Linked DNA regions of Homo sapiens: region 1 is linked to region 2. The links come from fine-mapping of genetic effects on gene expression. A gene starts in region 2. The other region holds a variant in brackets. All regions are shown on one strand. Distances are from middle to middle. Region 1 holds the start of LOC105369798 (a long non-coding RNA gene). Region 2 holds the start of SRGAP1 (SLIT-ROBO Rho GTPase activating protein 1).

Region 1 (9,188 bases), 290 kb before region 2:
AATCTACTTAGTTTTTAAACTTCAGTGATAGCTGGAAGTTGCCTTTTAGATTATTCAAATGGTAATCCCTGAATCTATTAACCTCTTTTCTCACTGATTATAAACATACATATATTTGGAGACAGGGTCTTGGTCTGTCACCCTGGCTGGAGTGCAGTAAGACAATCATAACTCACTGCAGCCTCCAACTCCTGGGCTCAAGCAACTCTCTCGCCTCAGCTTCCAAAGTACCTGGGATTGCAGACATGCACCACCACTCTTAGTGTGATGGTTAATACTGAGTGTCAACTTGATTGAAGGATGCGAAGTATTAATCCTGGGTGTATCTGTGAGGGTGTTGCCAAAGGACATTAACATTGGAGTTAGTGGGCTGGGGAAGGCAGACCTACCCCTAATCTGGATGGGCACCATCTAATCAGATGCCAGCGAATATAAAGCAAACAGAAGAACGTGAAAAGGTTAGACTGGCCTAGCCTCCCAGCCTACATCTTTCTCCCATGCTGGATGCTTCCTGCTCTTAAACATCAGACTCCAAGTTCTTCAGTTTTGGAACTTGGACCGACTCCTTGCTCCTCAGCCTGCAGACGGCTTATTGTGGGACCTTGTGATTGTGTGAGTTAATAATAAACTCACCTTTATATGTATATGTATTCCATTAATTCTGTACCTCCAGAGAGCCCTGACTAATACAGGTTTTGGTACCAGGAGTGGTTCTAGAGGGACAGAATATTAAGGATGGAGTTCTTTCATTGATTTTGGGGCTTCTGCTTTATATGATTAGACCAAAAAATACTAAGGACTTTACTTCTAATAGGATGGAGAACACTGATAGTTCTTGGTGTGAACTGTTTAGAGAGTTATGCAAAATACGTGCATTTGACACTCCTGATTCATCGCTCGTGAGAGGCAAGGAGTTTAGTGACTCCGTACATAATACATTTGTATGGAGTATTATGTAGAGAACCAAGGAACATAGTGAAGCTGGTTGGTTGTTCCTAAGTTCAGTGGACAAAGTGATGAAAAAAAATGATGAACTCAAGGATTCTATCTCCTGGCTTCAGAAGCAGATACTGAACCTCAAATCTGCTAAGACTGCCCTGAGTGTGAGTCTTATCTCCCACAGATAAAGAACTAAAATTATGGAGAACCAGACACGAGTTCTTATGCAAGTCGCTGACCTGCAATGAAAGATACATGCACAGCCTCACCAGGTGTCTACTGTTAAAGTGAGGGCATTGATTAGAAAAGAATGGGACCCTGCAACTTGGAATGGGGATGTGTGGGAGGACCCTGATGAAGCTGGGGGCACTGAGTTTGTAAACCCTGATGAACCTTTTTTGCCAGAAGAAACAGCTTCCCTATCCCCAGTAGCGGCAACATCCCCTCCCTGACCCATGCTGCCATCAGCCTTTCCACCTTTGTCTGAGGAGATAAACCCTGTGCTGCCTGAGGCAATGGTGATGGCCTCCCATGAGGCAGCTGCCAGGCAAGATAATGTTGACTCTCCTCAGGAGCCACCTCCAACACTTCTGTTTGCTTCTAGACCTGTAACTAGACTAATATCCCGGCAGGCCCCTGGAGGTGAGGTTGAGAGTGTGACCCATGAAGAGGTGTGCCACACTAGAAAAGAACTGCTTGAGTTTTCTAATTTATATAAATAGAAATCTGGATAACAGGCATGGGAATGGATATTAATGGTGTGGGATAATGGTAGATGGAACATAGAGTCAGATCAGGCTGAATTTATTGATTTGGGCCCATTAAGTAGGAGCTCTGCATTTAATGTTGCAGCTCGGGGAGTTAAAAAAGGTTCTAATAGTTTATTTGCTTGGTTAACTGAAATATGGATTGAAAGATGGCCCACTGTGAGCACTGTGAGTGAGCTGAAAATGCCTGCTCTCCCTTGGTTTAATGTAGAGGAAGGGATCCAAAGGCTTAGGGAGATTGGGATGGTGGAGTGGATTAGTCACTTTAGACTTACTCATCCCAGCTGGGAGAGTCCTTGACCAATGCCTTGCAAAACAGATTTGTGAGAGCAGCACTTGCATCTTTTTTTTTTTTTTTGAGATGGAGTCTTGCTGTGTCGCTCAGGCTAGAGTGCAGTGGCGCAATCTTGGCTCACTGCAAGCTCTGCCTCCCGGGTTCACGCCATTCTCCTGCCTCAGCCTCCCAAGTAGCTGGGACTACAGGCACCCACCACCACTCCCAGCTAATTTTTTAGATTTTTAGTAGAGACGGGGTTTCACCATGTTAGCCAGGATGGTCTCAATCTCCTGACCCCGTGATCTGCCTGCCTTGGCCTCCCAAAGTGCTGAGATTATAGGCATGAGCCACCGCACTTGGCCAGCACTTGCATCTTTGAAGAGCCCTGTAATTGCTGTTCTCTGTATGTCAGATCTAACGGTGGGAACCACAGTCACTCAACTACAAAATTTAAATACAATGGAGATAATTGGATCCCAAGGTAGCAGGAGCCAAGTGGCAACACTCAATCATCAAAGGCAAGGCGACACTCAATCATCAAAGGCAAGGTGGGCATAGCTACAGTAATGCACAGCAGAGGCAAAGCAGCAAGCAGAATAGTCTGACTCGTGTAGAACTCTGGCATTGGCTAATTAATCACGTTGTTCCTAAAAGTGAAATTGATAGGAAGCCTACTGCATTCCTACTTAATTTACACAAGCAGAAAACTTCTAGGTTGGATGGACAAAAGACTAATTTGAATTATGAAAACAGAGAATCATGGCCCCTCAATCAATTTCCAGACTTGACCCAGTTTACAGACCCAGAACCCCTTGAATGAAGAGGAGGCCAGGTCCCTTTGAGGAAGGACCCCGCTATATTACTGACAATTTATGCAGTGAATCTTTATCCCATCCTTCCCCAAGGGGACCTCCAGCCTTTTACCAGGGTAACTGTGTAATGGGGAAAGGGAAATGATCAGACATTTTGGGGACTAATGGACACTGGCTCTGAGCTGACACTGATTCCAGGGGACCCAAAATGTCGTTGTGGTGCTCCAGTTAAAGTAGTGGCTTGTGGAGGTCAGGTAATTAATGGAGTTTTAGCTCAGGTCTGACTTACAGTGAGTCTAATGGGTCCCCAGACTTCTCCTGTGGTCATTTCCCCAGTGCCAGAATGCATAATTGGCACAGACATACTTAGCAGCTGGCAGAACCCCCACATTGGCTCTGGACTGGTAGGGTGGGGGCTATTATGGTGGGAAAGGCCAAATGGAAGCCATTAGAGCAGGCTTTACCTAGAAAAATAGTAAATTAAAAACAATATTGCATCCCTGGAGGGACTGTAGAGATTAATGCCACCATCAAGGACTTGAAAGATGCAGGGGTGGTGATTCCCACCACATCCTCATTCAACTCTCCCATTTGGCCTGTGCAGAAGACAGATGGATTCTGGAGAATGACAGTGGATTATTGTAAGCTTAACCAAGTGGTGACTCCAAGTGCAGCTGCTGTACCAGATGTGGTTTCATTGCTTGAGCAAATTAACACATCTCCTGGTATGTGGATTGGAGCCACTGACTTGGAAAATGCCTTTTTCTCCATTCTTGTCCATAAGGCCCACCAGAAGTAATTTGCTTTCAGCTGGCAAGGCCAGCAATATACCTTTACTGTCCTACCTCAGGGGTATAGCAACTCTCTGGCTTTGTGTCATAATCTTACTCGGAGAGACCTTGATTGCTTTTTGCTTCCGCAAGATATTACACTGGTCCATTACATTGATGACATTATGCTGACTGGATCCAGTGAGCAAGAAGTAGCAAACACACTGGACTTATTGGTGAGACATTTGTGTGCTAGAGGATGGGAAATAAATCTGACTAAAATTCAGGGACCTTCTACCTCAGTAAAATTTTTAGAGGTCCAGTGGTGTGGGGCCTATCAAGATATTCCTTCTAAGATGAAGGATAAGTTGCTGCGTTTGGCCCCTCCTGCAAACAAGAAAGAGGCACAACGCCTAGTGGGCCTATTTGGATTTTGGAGGCAACACGTTCCTCTTTTGGGTGTGTTACTCTGGCCCATTTATCGAGTGACTCAAAAGGCTGCCAGTTTTGAGTGGGGTCCAGAACAGGAGAAGGCTCTGCAACAGGTCCAGGCTGCTGTGCAAGCTGCTCTGCCACTTGGGCCATATGACCCATCAGATCCAATGGTGCTTGAGGTGTCAGTGGCAGATAGGGATGCTGTTTAGAGCCTTTGGCAGGCCCCCATAGGTGAATCACAGCGGAGGCCTCTAGGATTTTGGAGCAAGGCCCTGCCTTCTTCTGCAGATAACTGCTCTCCTTTTCTTTTTGAGATGGAGTCTCTGTCTGTCACCCAGGCTGGAGTGCAGTGGCGTGATCTTGGCTCACTGCAACGTCACCTCTCTGGTTCAAATGATTCTTCTGCCTCAACCTCCCGAGTAGTTGGGACTACAGGCGTGTGCCACCACACTTGGCTAATTTTTGCATTTTTAGTAGAGATCGGGTTTCACCATATTGGTCAGGCTGGTCTTGAACTCCTGACCTCGTGATCTACCCGCCTTGGCTTCCCAAAGTGCTGGGATTACAGGCATGAGCCACTGCGCCTGGCCAACTACTCTCCTTTTGAGAGACAGCTCTTGGCCTGTTACTGGGCTTTGGTGGAAACTGAACGTTTGACCATGGGTCATCAAGTCACCATGCAACCTGAACTGCCTATTATGAACTGGGTGCTTTCTGACACATCTAGCCATAAAGCGGGTCGTGCACAGCAGCATTCCATCATCAAATGGAAGTGGTATATATGTGATCGAGCTCATGCAACTCCTGAAGGCATAAGTTACATGAGGAAGTGGCTCAAATGCCCAGGCTGCACTGATGGCCTCATGGGGAGTTCCCTATGATCACTTGACAGAGGAAGAGAAGACTAGGGCCTGGTTCACAGACGGTTCTGCATGATATGCAGGCACCACCCGAAAGTGGACAGCTGCAGCACTACAGCCCCTTTCTAGGACATCCCTGAAGGACAGTGGTGAAGGGAATCTTTCCCAGTGGGCAGAACTTCGAGCAGTGCACCTGGCTGTGCACTTTGCATGGAAGGAGGAATGGCCAGATGTGTGATTATACACTGATTCGTGGACTGTAGCCAATGGTTTGGCTGGATGGTCAGGGACTTAGAAGAAGTATGATTGCAAAATTGGTGACAAATTTGTGGAAGAGGTATGTGGATGGACCTCTCTGAGTGGTCAAAAACTGTGAAGATATTTGTATACCATGTGAGTACTCACCAACGGGTGACCTCAGCAGAGGAGGATTTTGATAATCAAGTGGATAGGATGAGCCATTCTGTGGACACCATTCAGCCTCTTTCCCCAGCCACCCCTGTTCTTGCTCAATGGGCCCATGAACAAAGTGGCCATAGTGGCAGGGATGGAGGTTACTCATGGGCTCAGCAACATGGACTTCCACTCACCAAGGCTGACCTGGCTATGGCCACTGCTTAGTGCTCAATTTGCCAGCAGCAGAAGCCAACACAGCCCTCGATATGGCACCATTCCTCAGGGTGATCAGCCAGCTACCTGGTGGCAGGTTGATTACACTGGACCTCTTCCATCATGAAAAGGGCAGAGGTTTGTCCTCACTGGAATAGACAGTTACTCCGGATATGGGTTTGCCTATCCTGCACACAATGCTTCTGCCAAGACTACCATCTGTGACTCATGGAATGCCTTATCCACCATGATGGTATTCCACACAGCATT[A/G]CCTCTGACCAAGGCACTTACTTTATGGCTAAAGAAGAGTGGCAGTGGGCTCATGCTCATGGAATTCATGGGTCTTACCATGCTCCCTATCATCCTGAAGCAGCTGGATTGACAGAATGGTGGATTGGTCTTGTGATGTCACAATTGCAACACCAACTAGGTGACAATACTTTGCAGGGCTGGGGCAAAGTTCCCCAGAAGGCTGTGTATGCTCTGAATCTGTGTCCAATACATGGTGCAGTTTCTCCCATAGCCAGGATTCACGGGTCCAGGAATCAAGAGGTGGAAGTGGAAGTGGCACCATTCATCATTATCCCTAGTGACCCCCTAGCAACATTTTTACTTCCTGTTCCCGCGACATTATGTTCTGCTGGCCTAGAGGTCTCAGTTCCAGAGGGAGGAATGTGCCACCAGGAGACACAGCAACAATGCCATTGAGTTAAGATTGCCACCTGGACACTTTGGGCTCCTCCTACCTTTAAGGCAACAGACTAAGAAGGGAGTTACAGTGTTGGCTAAGGTGACTGACTCAGACTATCAAGATGAAATCAGTCGACTACTCCACGATGCAGGTAAAAAAGAGTGTGCATGGAATACAGGAGATCCATTAGGGCGTTTCTTAGTATTACCACGCTCTGTGATTAAGGTCAATGGGAAACTACAATAGCCCAATCCAGGCAGGACTACAAATGGCCCAGACCCTTCAGGAATGAAGGTTTGGGTCACTCCGCCAGGAAAACAACAACAACAACAACAACAACAACAACAACCACGACCTGCTGAGGTGCTTGCTGAAGGCAAAGGGAATACGGAATGGGTAGTAGAAGGTAGTCATCAATACCAGCTATGACCACGTGGAAACAGGGACTGTAATTGTCATGAGTATTTCCTTCTTTCGTTAAAAACATGTTTGTGCATGTATACACTTGTACTAGGAAAATATCTTCATTTTATTTCCTTTTTCCTTTAGCATGTGACATAAGATTATATTGACTTCCTATCAGCATTTAAGTATTGTTAACTTTATGTAATAGCATTTGGGTTGGGGATTGGTGTGTTTCCGGTTATAGGAAAGGACAGTTGTATCATGTTAGGCGTAATTATGACATTATTGTTTTTATTTGAAGATTATGTACGATCTCAGGAGATGTTTATGGGTTCAAGTTGACAAGGGGTAGACTTGTGATGGTTAATACTGAGTGTCAACTTGATTGGATTGAAGGATGCAAAGTGTTACTCCTGGGTGTGTCTGTGAGGGGGTTGCCAGAGGAAATTAACATTTGAGTCAGTGGGCTGGGGAAGGCAGACCCACCCTTAATCTGGATGGGCACCATCTAATTAACTGCCAGTGAACATAAAGCAGGCAGAAAAACATGAAAAGGTTAGACTGGCCTAGCCTCCCAGCCTACGTCTTCCTCCCGTGCTGTATGCTTCCTGCCCTTGAACATCAGACTCCAAGTTCTTCAGTTTTGGAACTTGGACTGGCTCTCCTTGCTCCTCAGCCTGCAGATGGCCTATTGTGGGACTCTGTGATTGTGTGAGTTAATACTTAATAAACTCCCCTTTATATGTATATATATTCCATTAATTCTGTCCCTCTAGAGAATCCTAATATACCTAGGTAATTAAAAAAAAATTTTTTTTTTTAGACACGGGATTTTGCTATATTGACCAGGCTTGTCTCAAACTCCTAACCTCAAGCTATCTTCTTGCCTCAGCCTCCTAAAGTGTTGGGATTACAGGTGTAAGCCACCCACTAGGCCTACGAACATATGTTCTCATGGCCTGTGCTGTGAAAAGAGCCAGAACCAGAGGGAAAAATGGTAGAATGATGGGCAAATTTATTAGTATTGTTTCCCTTTTACTTGGTCAATTTTAGTCATTAGAAGAAAACTACACAGCCCCTCTGCAGTCACTGTTGGGAAGCAAAGACCTGAATGTGTTCAGGAGGTACATAGGATCCAGACTTGTTCTTCAAATATCTATCTATTATTGATCACATTATTTATTAGGTCTCATCTTTTCTAAGTTGAAAGTGCCATCTTTATCATATACAGTAGGGGTTTGCACTATCTGTGGCTTCAGGCATCCACTGGGGGTCTTGAAACATATGCCCTGCAGATAAGGAGGGACTACTGTTTTAAGGTTTTTCTGTTTCTGGGCTCTCCATTCTGTTTCATCCATCTGTCTGTTTTACTAGCTTTAGAATGCATTTAGGATCTGGCAGGGCCACTGCTTTCCCATTCTTCTTTTTCAAAGTTTTTCTGGCTATTCACAATGATAGGTTTGAGTGTCCTGGTCCTACGTTTTTGTCATGTTTCTGTTTAAATCACTATGAACCTTTGGGCCCTTTCAGTAACAAATTGTTCAAAAAAGACTCAGGGCCTAAGTTAAAGAATGAGCTGGTTTTGTTTCTGTTTTCTTTAGTTGGTTCTATACAGAAATATAAAGTAAATAAAGTAAAAAGTAAATAAAGTAAATCTTTCACACCTCCTACATCACACTTAGGTACTTAAAATGCAATATGTAATTAAAAGCATCGTACCTGAGCAATTGTCTCTGGGTCCAGTGGCTTGTGGTCATTGAAGCCCGTGTATTGCCCTGATGACGTGGACCTTCTAATGGGAGGGCTGTCGATCTTCTTGAGGGAGTCGTGCCGGCTGATGTTGGTCAGGCTGCCATGGCCAGGCCTGCGCCTCCGCTCAGGACTGTCATTGTTGAGGCCACGGTTCTGCAGCAGGCCCCGGGGGTGACTGGCAAGGCTTGGGGACCCTAGGTCAACTGAGGAGTTAGAAAGGGCATGTGGAGGGTGGAGCGGGCAATGGCCATCACTGGTCCTGCCAGGACGCCTTACTGGAGGGGGTGGCTCTCCTCTTTTTCGTTGCCTAGACATTCACAGAAACAGGGAGAAAACAGAAGAGCTTATCACACCGGGCAGTACTGCAAGGCTGAGGTGCAGTGGCTCCTCATGGCCCCAGGAGGAGCGGAGGCTTAGGGGCCTGATTCCCAGGCTCTACTTACCTGGCTAAATAGCCGTCAGGATGACGGTCTGTCGGGGAGTTCATGTCCTTGGATGAGGACTTGTCTTCCGTGACTGGCCCACTGCTGGCCTCACTGTCGGCTTTTTGGCTCAGAGTGTCTGAAAACGTATCATCCCTGAAGCAGTAAGAGGAATGGAGACAAAATTTACTAGATTTACAAATTTTACAAAATTTGCTAGATGAGTGGAGATGAAAATTTACGTGATAGCATTTATGTATGAAATAGCATTATGCATGAAAGCCCTTCTTTTATTAAAATAACTTTTCTCTTTTCATTATAAAAGCAATACAATTTCATTACAGGTACAACAGCAATTTCAGTTATACAAAAAAGACTGAAATAATCACCCATAATATAACATCCAGAGACAACTACTGTTAGAATTTTAAGAAATATCCTCCTCCATC
Region 2 (9,188 bases):
AAGAATTACATAGATCACTAAAGTCCACAGATAATTCAAAACCTTCTGCTAGCCAATTATTCAATCCCTTCCACTGCTACGCTATTTGCCAGAGATGCTAACAAATAGCATAGTCAACTGGTTTGGGTTTCATACACTTTTCCAGACATGCTTGCTTTCTAATGGCCTATTCAAACAAGAGATTTATTTCTCTTAATTCTAAGTCTTTGAGAATTTGACCAAGAGGCATGAAATGTTCAATTCATTCTTTAAAACTGTTGCCTGGGGTCCCCTTTTGTCCCCCATTTAAACCTATCCACTGTTTAACCACTTGTATCATTCCTGATTCTTCTGTCTTACAATTCTGTGCTACATTTCTCTGCATGTGGTTTTGATTACTGTTTTTTCTGTATTCTTTATTGTATTCTATTTTAATTCTCCAAAAACTCAATTTATACACTGTCCATGAACTTATGAAAAAAAAGTGAAAGCAAAAATGATTCTCCACAAAACAGAGCAGCCAACTGAAAACTTTAAAAGCTTGAAAATTTTATGAGGCAATTAATATGAACTGATATGACATCTTCAATTAGATTCAAAGACACTTAGGATTACAAAAATTAGTCAGGCATGGTGGTGCACGCTTGTATTTCCAGCTACTCAGGAGGCTGAGGCATGAGAATCACTTGAAACCGGAAGGCAGAGGCTTCAGAGAGCAGAGATCGTGTCACTGCACTCCAGCTTGGGTGACAGAGTGAGACTCTGTCTCAAAAAGAAAAAAAAAAGACACTTAAGATGAAGAGAATTCCAACTCCTTATCTTATAGATAAGAAAACCGAAACCCAGAGAAAGGCTAAGTGACTTGCCCAAAATGATACACACAACTAGATACATCTATGATCTTATACATAAAATTACGAATTATCACCAGGAATGGTTCTTTTCACAGTTAAGAATAGCCCCATGAAGTCTGTTCCCAAAACCTGTGCAGGCAGCCACAGTGGCAAAATTCCATATCTGGGCCGGGTGCAGTGGCTCATGCCTGTAATCCCAGCACTTTGGGAGGTGGAGGCAGAGGCAGGTGGATCACCTGAGGTCAGGAGTTCGAGACCAGCCTGGCCAACATGTCGAAACCCCATCTCTACTAAAAATACAAAAATTAACTGGGCGTGGTGGTGCGTGTATATAATTCCAACTACTCCAGAGGCTGAGGCAGGAGAATCACTTGAACCCAGGAGGTGGAGGTTGCACTGAGCCGAGACCACGCCACTGCACTCTGGCCTGGGCAGCAGACCGATACTCCTTTTATATATATATATATATAAAATAAAAATTAAAGAATAAAAAAATTCCATATCTGAAGTCATTCCTTTAGGTCAAAACATTATCTCAAAAATTCTGAGATAAATAAAGTTGTTATTAGGGAAAATGGGAGAGAGTAACAGGGGAAAATATTCTAGAGTGTTAGGTTCTAAGTTAGAAGGTAGAAAAAAAAATACATATAATCAAAATGACTCTTGAAATCACCCACACACCTAAGTCACCTATAGAGTCCAATATGTATGTTTATTCATTGTGTTTTTCTTGAGACAGAGTCTCACTCTGTCAGCCAGGCTGGAGTGCAGTGGCGCAATTTCAGCTCACTGCAACTTCTGCCTCCCGGGTTCAAGCAATTCTCCTGACTCAGCCTCCAGGGTAGCTGGGACTACAGGCATGCACCACCATGTCCGGCTAATTTTTGTATTTTTAGTAGGGACAGGGTTTCACCATGTTGGCCAGGCTGGTCTCGGCCTCAAGTGATCCGCCCACCTCGGTCTCCCAAAGTGCTGGGATTACAGGCGTGAGCCACCGTGCCTGGCCTAGACTTATGTCTTAATGAGTCCCACACAGTCAGGTTTTCCTTTAGCAATAGAACAGAATTTTTTTTTATCATCAGATAAAGTTGCTGACTGTAATTTAAAAAGTAGTTTGTTCCAAATACATATACCTTTATTTATTTATTTATTTATTAGACAGAGTCTCACTCTGTCACCCAGACTGGAGTGCAGTGATGTGATTTCGGCTCACTGTAACCTCTGCCTCCTGGGTTCAAGTGGAACCACAGGCACACTGGGACCACAGGTGTGTGCCACCACACCTAGCTAATTTTTGTATTTTTTGGTAAAGATGTGGTTTCTCTACCAAAATGTTGGCCAGGCTGGTCTTGAACCCCTAACCCCAAGTGATCCGCCTGCCTCAGCCTCCTGAAATGCGGAGATTACAGGCATGCACCACTGCACCTGATCCCAAAACACATACCTGTAAATAACAGACTAGCACTCTGCGAGGGTACAGAAAAACCAGTCTTGTCTCCCATGCTGTCCTTACTAAGGGGCCTACTCTCCCTGCATTGGACAGCTGGCCTCATGTACTATTTATCTGTTATTTGTCTCCCACTCTCTTCTTGATTTGCCTAGAAGTACCAGGTGAATTTGTGCCATTTAATGCGTATATGATCTGACTCCATGATATTCCCTTATTCCCATGTTTGTGTATGGATGTAGTGATCTAGGTTAGATACTGGATGTGTAGGTACTGCAGGAGGAGGTAAAGCCTGGACTCAGGGCAGGGCAGGTGCAGTGAAGACTCCTAAAGCAGCCTAGGGACTCGTGGGTGTGTGGAAGGAAGAAGTGTTGAAGGAAATAGGGAGAAGGTCATTCTCTGTGGGACAGACTTAGCTCCAAATGTGATTTTCACCATGTTCATGATTTTTCTTCCGTTTGAATTTGATAGACACATTGCAACACATCCCATTTCGCTGATTTTCAAATAAGGACTTGATCACTGGCAAGTGACCTTACAGCAAACATAAAGAAATCAACATTTGGAAGTGCATTTGCCAATTAGTGCTCTAGGCGGCAGAAAAACCAGACCGCCACCCCTTGAAGACCTGCCACAAAGAGCCATGTGGAAAAACTGCACAGAGAAATGGTGGTTGTGAACAAGAGTACTGCCCTGGAATGAAAGGTTTTAGGCTATGTTGGACTCACTGAAAAAAGAAAGGTTAGTCTCATTAGAAAGTTTACCTGGCTCTAAGAAAATAATTACTTATCTGCTAACACAACTTCCATAGCAATGAAACAAGTTCCTGTAAGTATAAATTATCACAATTCCAAGCAGACAAAAATCTGTGTCTCCTGAACACATTATAGGGGTCAGCCTATAGATAACTCCATTATAGGGGTCCTCCTAAAGATAACCTAAGTTATCTTGCATATTGTGTCTGCAGTGTCCACAATGAGTTGGTCTGTATTCACACTGGATGATACAGGATTTCTCCACCAGGTCCTCTCACAGGACTCCAGGCATTTTTACAACTTGACCACACAAAAGAACACTCAGGCTGCTCCTCCCTTGCTCAAGGGAAGTACAGTAATGCCTCTCTCCGTAGCCCTTTCATAAGACTGTGCATAGATAAACACAGGTGTATACATAGCAATCTTTATGAACTTTGCATTGAATGTGTCAAAGAACAGTGGCGGTCCCAACATTCCATCCATTGTCTCAATCAGGAAAGCTACTCCTGAGACCTCAGGAAAGAGGAGGAAAAAATTCAAGTAACACATATGTTTACGAAACACTTCAGTAACAAAACAAAATACTTGTATTGGAGAGAAAATATATATATTTTTAATCACAAGGCATAGAAAGTAAAAATAATCAGCCTTAATTAGGTTTCCTTCATTAGTTGACAATGTAAATGGACTGAAACTACTACTCAAATATTCAAACCTTCATTTTACATGCAAGTGGCTTCCAGAAAATGATAAAGCAATATTCCCATGTGAGTGTGAAAGATGGCAATGAATTCTGGCCCATTATAAAGGAAGAGTCAGATTCCACTAGTCACTGCTTCGTTTAACTGCCAGGCTTTTAGGGAGCTATTTAATAAAAGGGGTCTCGCCCTAATAAATTGTGAGCGGTGTAAATAGGTGAGTGGTGTAAATATCTGAAATAGCCTGCACTCAATGAGGCTGTAGACCGCTTGGGGTTCACAGACTTTACAAAAATCATTCCGTAAAAAAATTACGTAGTGACAATCCTACCATTTAAAAAGAATAATGATGGTGATAATAATAGCTGGACAGGATCCTCCACTGCTGCCTGCTTCCCACATAAGTTGCCCAGCTGAAGGTGGTTAAGTTAAAGCCAGTTCTCTCCCCATTAGAGATGCGGGCTGGCAGCTGGCGGGGGAAGTCACCCAGTTTCCAGCTCCCCGTGGGTTTGACGGGACTGGGATTGCAACTGGGAACTAACTGGCTTGTAGGAAGCCCAGGTGGCTCAGACAGGGCTCGAGCTGTCCCCTCACCACCTTCCTCCCACGCAGACACCAAGTTAGATACGCAACTCCACGAGCACAATGACAAGAAGGCACACAAAAGGAGCAAGGCAGCCGCTCCCATCCTTACCTTTGACTTGACTTTCATACTCGGCTATGATCTCTTTGTCCTTCTTGAATCGGCTCGGGGTGGACATTATCCAGCTGTTCCGGGTTTGCTTTCAATGGGCAAGTTTTGTTCAGTGGTCACAACCCGTTCTCCTTGGAGAGGCAGAGTTGTACTCCCACACGCAGGCAATCCAGAGGCAGCGCCGACCCGAGGGAAGGGAGGAGGGAGAGGAGAAGTAGGAGGAGGAGGGGAAAAAGAGCGAGTAGAGAGGACTAGATTAGCCCGGGCGCTGGCACCATACTCTCGAAATTGAGCTCCGTCGGTAATCCCAGGGGATCCCCGGGGGAGAGGCCGGACGCGCAGGCAAACTCCAGCCAGCGAGTGGCGGGGGACGTCTCCCTGCCCACCTCGCCGGGAGCCCGGCCACTTCCTCTACGGCCGCTGGGCGGGCGCGGGGCTCGCGCCGGCGCTCCGCACCATTGTTCGAGACCCGCACCGGGCGCCCGGGACAGGGCCAGCGGCGGAGGGCAGGCGCTGGGAACGCGCCCAGCTCGGGCGCCACAACCCTCCCTTCCTGCCTCCAGCTGTCGGCTCCGGCGCTCAAGGGTCCCGCCCGGGCTGGGGATGCTGCTGCCACGGCCGCCGCTCCTCTGCCCGCAGACACTGCCGCTACAGCTCGGCAGGCGAAAGGAATCGCAGTCCTGACGCGAGTCCCCGCTGCTGCTGAGAGGGTGAAGGCGGCGACGCTCAGACGCGCCCTGGGCACAGCCCCGGCGGAGTTTAGGTCTCCAGAGCCGGCGCCGCGAGGGGCCTCTGCCTCCCTGGCCGCGGTGCGCCGAGGCTGCCTTTCTCTGCGTCCCCCTTTCCGCTGCTGCCCCCAGGAGGCCGCTAGTGACAGGCACACTCGCACACGCACGCGGGAGCCGCGCCCCCGGCGGCAGCAAAGTTGAGGGTGCGCACACGGCTCGCGCCTCGCGGGCGCCCGGCTAGCGATCTGCGGGCGGTGGCTCCTCGGGGCTCCGCCAGGCGGGGCCAGGCTCGCGGGAGCGGACCGCGCTCCGGCCTGTGCCCTTCTCCGTCCAAGCTCCCGCCCCTGCTCCGCTAGGAAACGCCTGGCTGGTCCGGGAAGATGGATGCCTCTTGTGGCCAACCGCAGCCCGGCCCCGCGCGCCGAGCCCAGGAGGCCGTGGGCGGCGCCCCCGGCACCTCCCTCCGCCGAGGCCCCGCACCTCCCTCCGCCGAAGCCCCGCTCCACCGCTAGCCGAGGTCGCGGCTCCGGCGGCAGGAAAACCCCTTCCTGACCTGAGGGACCGCCTTCTGGCTCTGGCGGGGGCTCTGGTGGGGCTTTTGCCAGAATCTAATGGGGAAGTCCAGAGTTGGATGTATCCATGACACAAAGGGATGTTACTCCGAGACGCTGGACCCCAATAGAAAAACTGAACACTGAATTGTGAATGACCTGGCTGTTAATCCAAAGAGCGCGAAGCTCTTCAATCGAGGCGGAGAAAAACACCCACCTTGAACACCATATCCTCTATTCCTACAGTAGATAGGGAAGCTAGGATGGTAGGAAAGCGATGGTATGGAAACACGTCACACTTAACGGCGTTGTTAGCTTATTTATTTACTAAACTCCAGATTTTATTCCAATTTTACCAATTTTTTCGACTAGTGTCATTTTTTCTGTTCCAAGATCCAACACAGGACACTACATTGCACTTAGTACTTTTACGGTTGTTTTTGTTTTTGTTTTTTGATTTTGTTTTTTGGGGGTTTTTTTTGAGACGGGGTCTCACTCTCGCCCAGGCTGGAGTGCAGGGGCACGAGCTCCGCTCACTGCAACCTCCGCCTCCCGGGTTCAAGTGATTCTCCTGGCTCAGCCTCCAGAGTAGGTGTGACTACAGGCGCCCGCCACCGTGCCTGGGTAATTTTTGTATCTTTAGTAGAAACAGGGTTTTGCCATGTTGGTCAGGCTGGTCTTGAACTCCTGACCTCAAGTGATCCGCTCACCTCGGCCTCCCAAAGTGGTAGGATTACAGGTGTGAGCCACGGCGCCCGGCCACGTTTTTAATAGATACCTTTTACAAGATCTATCGTGTCTAGTCTCTTTTTATTTTATTTGTTTGTTTGTTTTCATTTTAGTACAGACGGGGGTCTCCCTATGTTGTCCAGGCTGGTCTCAAACTCTAGTCTCTTTTTGAACAATATAACGAAGAATTTACCTTGCCATCTTTGCATGGTTCAGGTGTTGTGTTAAGTACTTTAAATCCATCCTTGCCAGCCTTTTAAATTTTTTTTTATTATTTTTACTTTTTTGTAGAGATGAAGCCTTGCTCTATGGCCCAGGCTGGTCTCAAACTCCTGGCCTCAAAAGATTCTGGCTGGGCACGGTGGTTTACACCAGTAATCCCAGCACTTTGGGAGGCCGAGGTGGGCAGATCACAAGGTCAAGAGTCCGAGACCAGCCTGGCCAACATGGTGAAACCCCATCTCTACTAAAAATATAAAACTTAGCCGGGCATGGTGGCATGTGCCTATAATCCCAGCTACTCAGGAGGCGGAGGCAGGAGAATCGCTTGAACCCAGGAGGTGGAGGTTGCAGTGAGCCAAGATTGCACCACTGCACTCCAGCCTGGGCGACAGAGGGAGACTCCTTCTCAAAAAAAAAAAAAAAAAAAAAAAAGAAAATCCTCCGACCTCAGCCTCCCAAAGCACTGGGATTACAAGCATCAGCCACCACACCTGGTTCTGTTAGCCTTTTTGACTCACACCACTTGAGATATTTACTGACTCCTTTCAAATCAATTCTCAAATATTATGGGCCTGATTTATCAAAATGATGTGTCCAAAGGTGTATCCCCTCAAGTGTTTTCCCCACAAGATCTAAAGAAAGTAGGGACTTTTAGACTTTGATCATTCTTTCATGTATCCAGTGATCGGCTCTCCAGTTCTTAACTCTGTGCCAAACACCACGCTAGGAACTAGGGATTCAAAGATTAAGACTGCCGGAAAGGATCATGCAGTCTATTACTGTATAAATAAATAATTACAAGCAGTACAATAATGCTGTAAGAGATAGAAATACTCCCAGTCTTGGGAGCACTGGGGATGGAAAAACAGACTGCATAAGAGGATTGGGTGTAAGAGTTCGCAGAGGAGTGGTTTTGAGCTGGATTTAAAGGATGAATAGTAAGTAGCTGGCAACTTTAGGGAGGAAAAGGGATGCATTCCAGGGAAAAGGAAGAGTGTTATACTCTAGAGGAATTGCAAATAGAGTGACAAGATATCTTCCACTAAGATACCAGATCTCTGCTAGATGGTGAAAAATAATGTAAAAAATTGTAATATATGTATATGCATGTGTCAGCTGATAGTATGTGGGTATGTGGACATTGTTAATTGCACTGCTTTTTTAAAATCTAATTTTAGCAAGTTTTTTTTACTTTATAGCAACAGAATATATGTAAAGAAAATATGCCAATTTTTTTTAAGTTTTTTTTTCAGTCTTTTTTTCATTTTACCACACAGGCAGTTATACTATGGCACCCCTGGCTGCCCTAATTTCACGTGGAGCTGTCTTATGTAAGAGTGTACGGTGAAGAGAAAGCAGAGGCTGGAAGGAAGGTCAGGGCCAGCTGGGAGAGTCCTCCTGTGCCATGCTAAGATCTTGGACACAGTTCTGCAGACAGCAGGGAGCCTTTTAAGTAGAGAAGTATCACGATCAGATTTGTGTTTTATAAAGATAACTGTTGGCAGTGTAGAAGGATGGGTTAGCCATAGAGAAAGAGAGACCAGGCAGGCAGCCTACTTAGGTGATAATCATAGTCACATCTAAATGGGATTCATATCCATGATGCTGTTGGGATTTGTTTCATATTTGCACCTGGGAAGCACAAGTTGACAGCAGAGATTGCAGCACCTAGAAATGAATTGTTGCCTGAGTCTAGACCTAAATCAGTGTGTTGCAAACAAGCCCCAGAGACAGGGTGCCCAGAGGTGAATCCTAAATCTGCTGTTTCCTAAGGGATCTGGTAAAAATTACTATTCTCTCTAGGCCTTAGTTTGTAAAATGGGTTACAAATTTTCCTTATCTGTAAAATTGGTTAATGCCTAAGTCCTGGGGATGTTATAAGCACTTACTGAGATAAACCCTTAAAAGTACTTGTAGGCCATGGTATACACCCAGTGAGTATTAGTTATCTTTACAATTATTATCTTAGTTTTACTCTTCCTAATAGAAAGCTATCTAAAAATCAGAGATAGGCTGGGCGTGGTGGCTCATGCCTGTAATCTAAACACTTTGGGAGGCTGAGGTGGGAGGATTGCTTGAGCCCAGGAGTACAAGACCAGCCTCATTTCTACAAAGAATAAATAAAGATCAGAGATAATGTTTCATCTTTAATTTTATTATGGTGTTCAATACACAGTCAATAAAATGTATTGAATATTAATGCCACCATTAGTAGGCCACCATTTTATTGTTGTTGAAGATGGGATATACCCACTAAGGTAAGAATTTTGCACACATTCTCAGAAGAACCCTACATGGCGGACACCATTGTCCTCATTTTACAGATGAGAATCTGGAGGCTCAGAAAATTCAGTAAATGTCTGGCCTGGCAGGGTCAGAATTCCAGTTCACATCTGCCTGTCTCCAAAGTGGGTACTCTTTCCAATTTTCCATTCCACTTCCTATGAACTTATGATTCCTTTAAACTTGTGAAGTGAGTTCAAATAAGTAAAATGTGTGTGACGGAGTCATGGGTTTCTATTGGTGGATCT

The links. PIP is the estimated chance that this variant, and not a neighbour inherited with it, causes the effect.
Region 1: its variant is fine-mapped to the expression of SRGAP1 in testis (GTEx, PIP 0.96).

What each region holds. Positions count from the first base shown.
Region 1 is chr12:64,127,297-64,136,484 of GRCh38, reverse strand. It overlaps SRGAP1 (SLIT-ROBO Rho GTPase activating protein 1), which reads right to left. Exons shown (of 22, transcript NM_020762.4): 20 at 8,761-8,895; 21 at 8,285-8,624. It overlaps LOC105369798 (a long non-coding RNA gene), which reads left to right and starts at 5,753. Exons shown (of 2, transcript XR_945018.2): 1 at 5,753-6,311. The variant A/G (reference allele first, on the strand shown) is at 5,740.
Region 2 is chr12:63,840,123-63,849,310 of GRCh38, reverse strand. It overlaps SRGAP1 (SLIT-ROBO Rho GTPase activating protein 1), which reads right to left and starts at 4,611. Exons shown (of 22, transcript NM_020762.4): 1 at 4,428-4,611. The coding sequence starts at 4,494. RefSeq lists silencers at 4,769-5,028, 5,139-5,198, 5,259-5,678 and enhancers at 4,605-5,104, 5,105-5,606.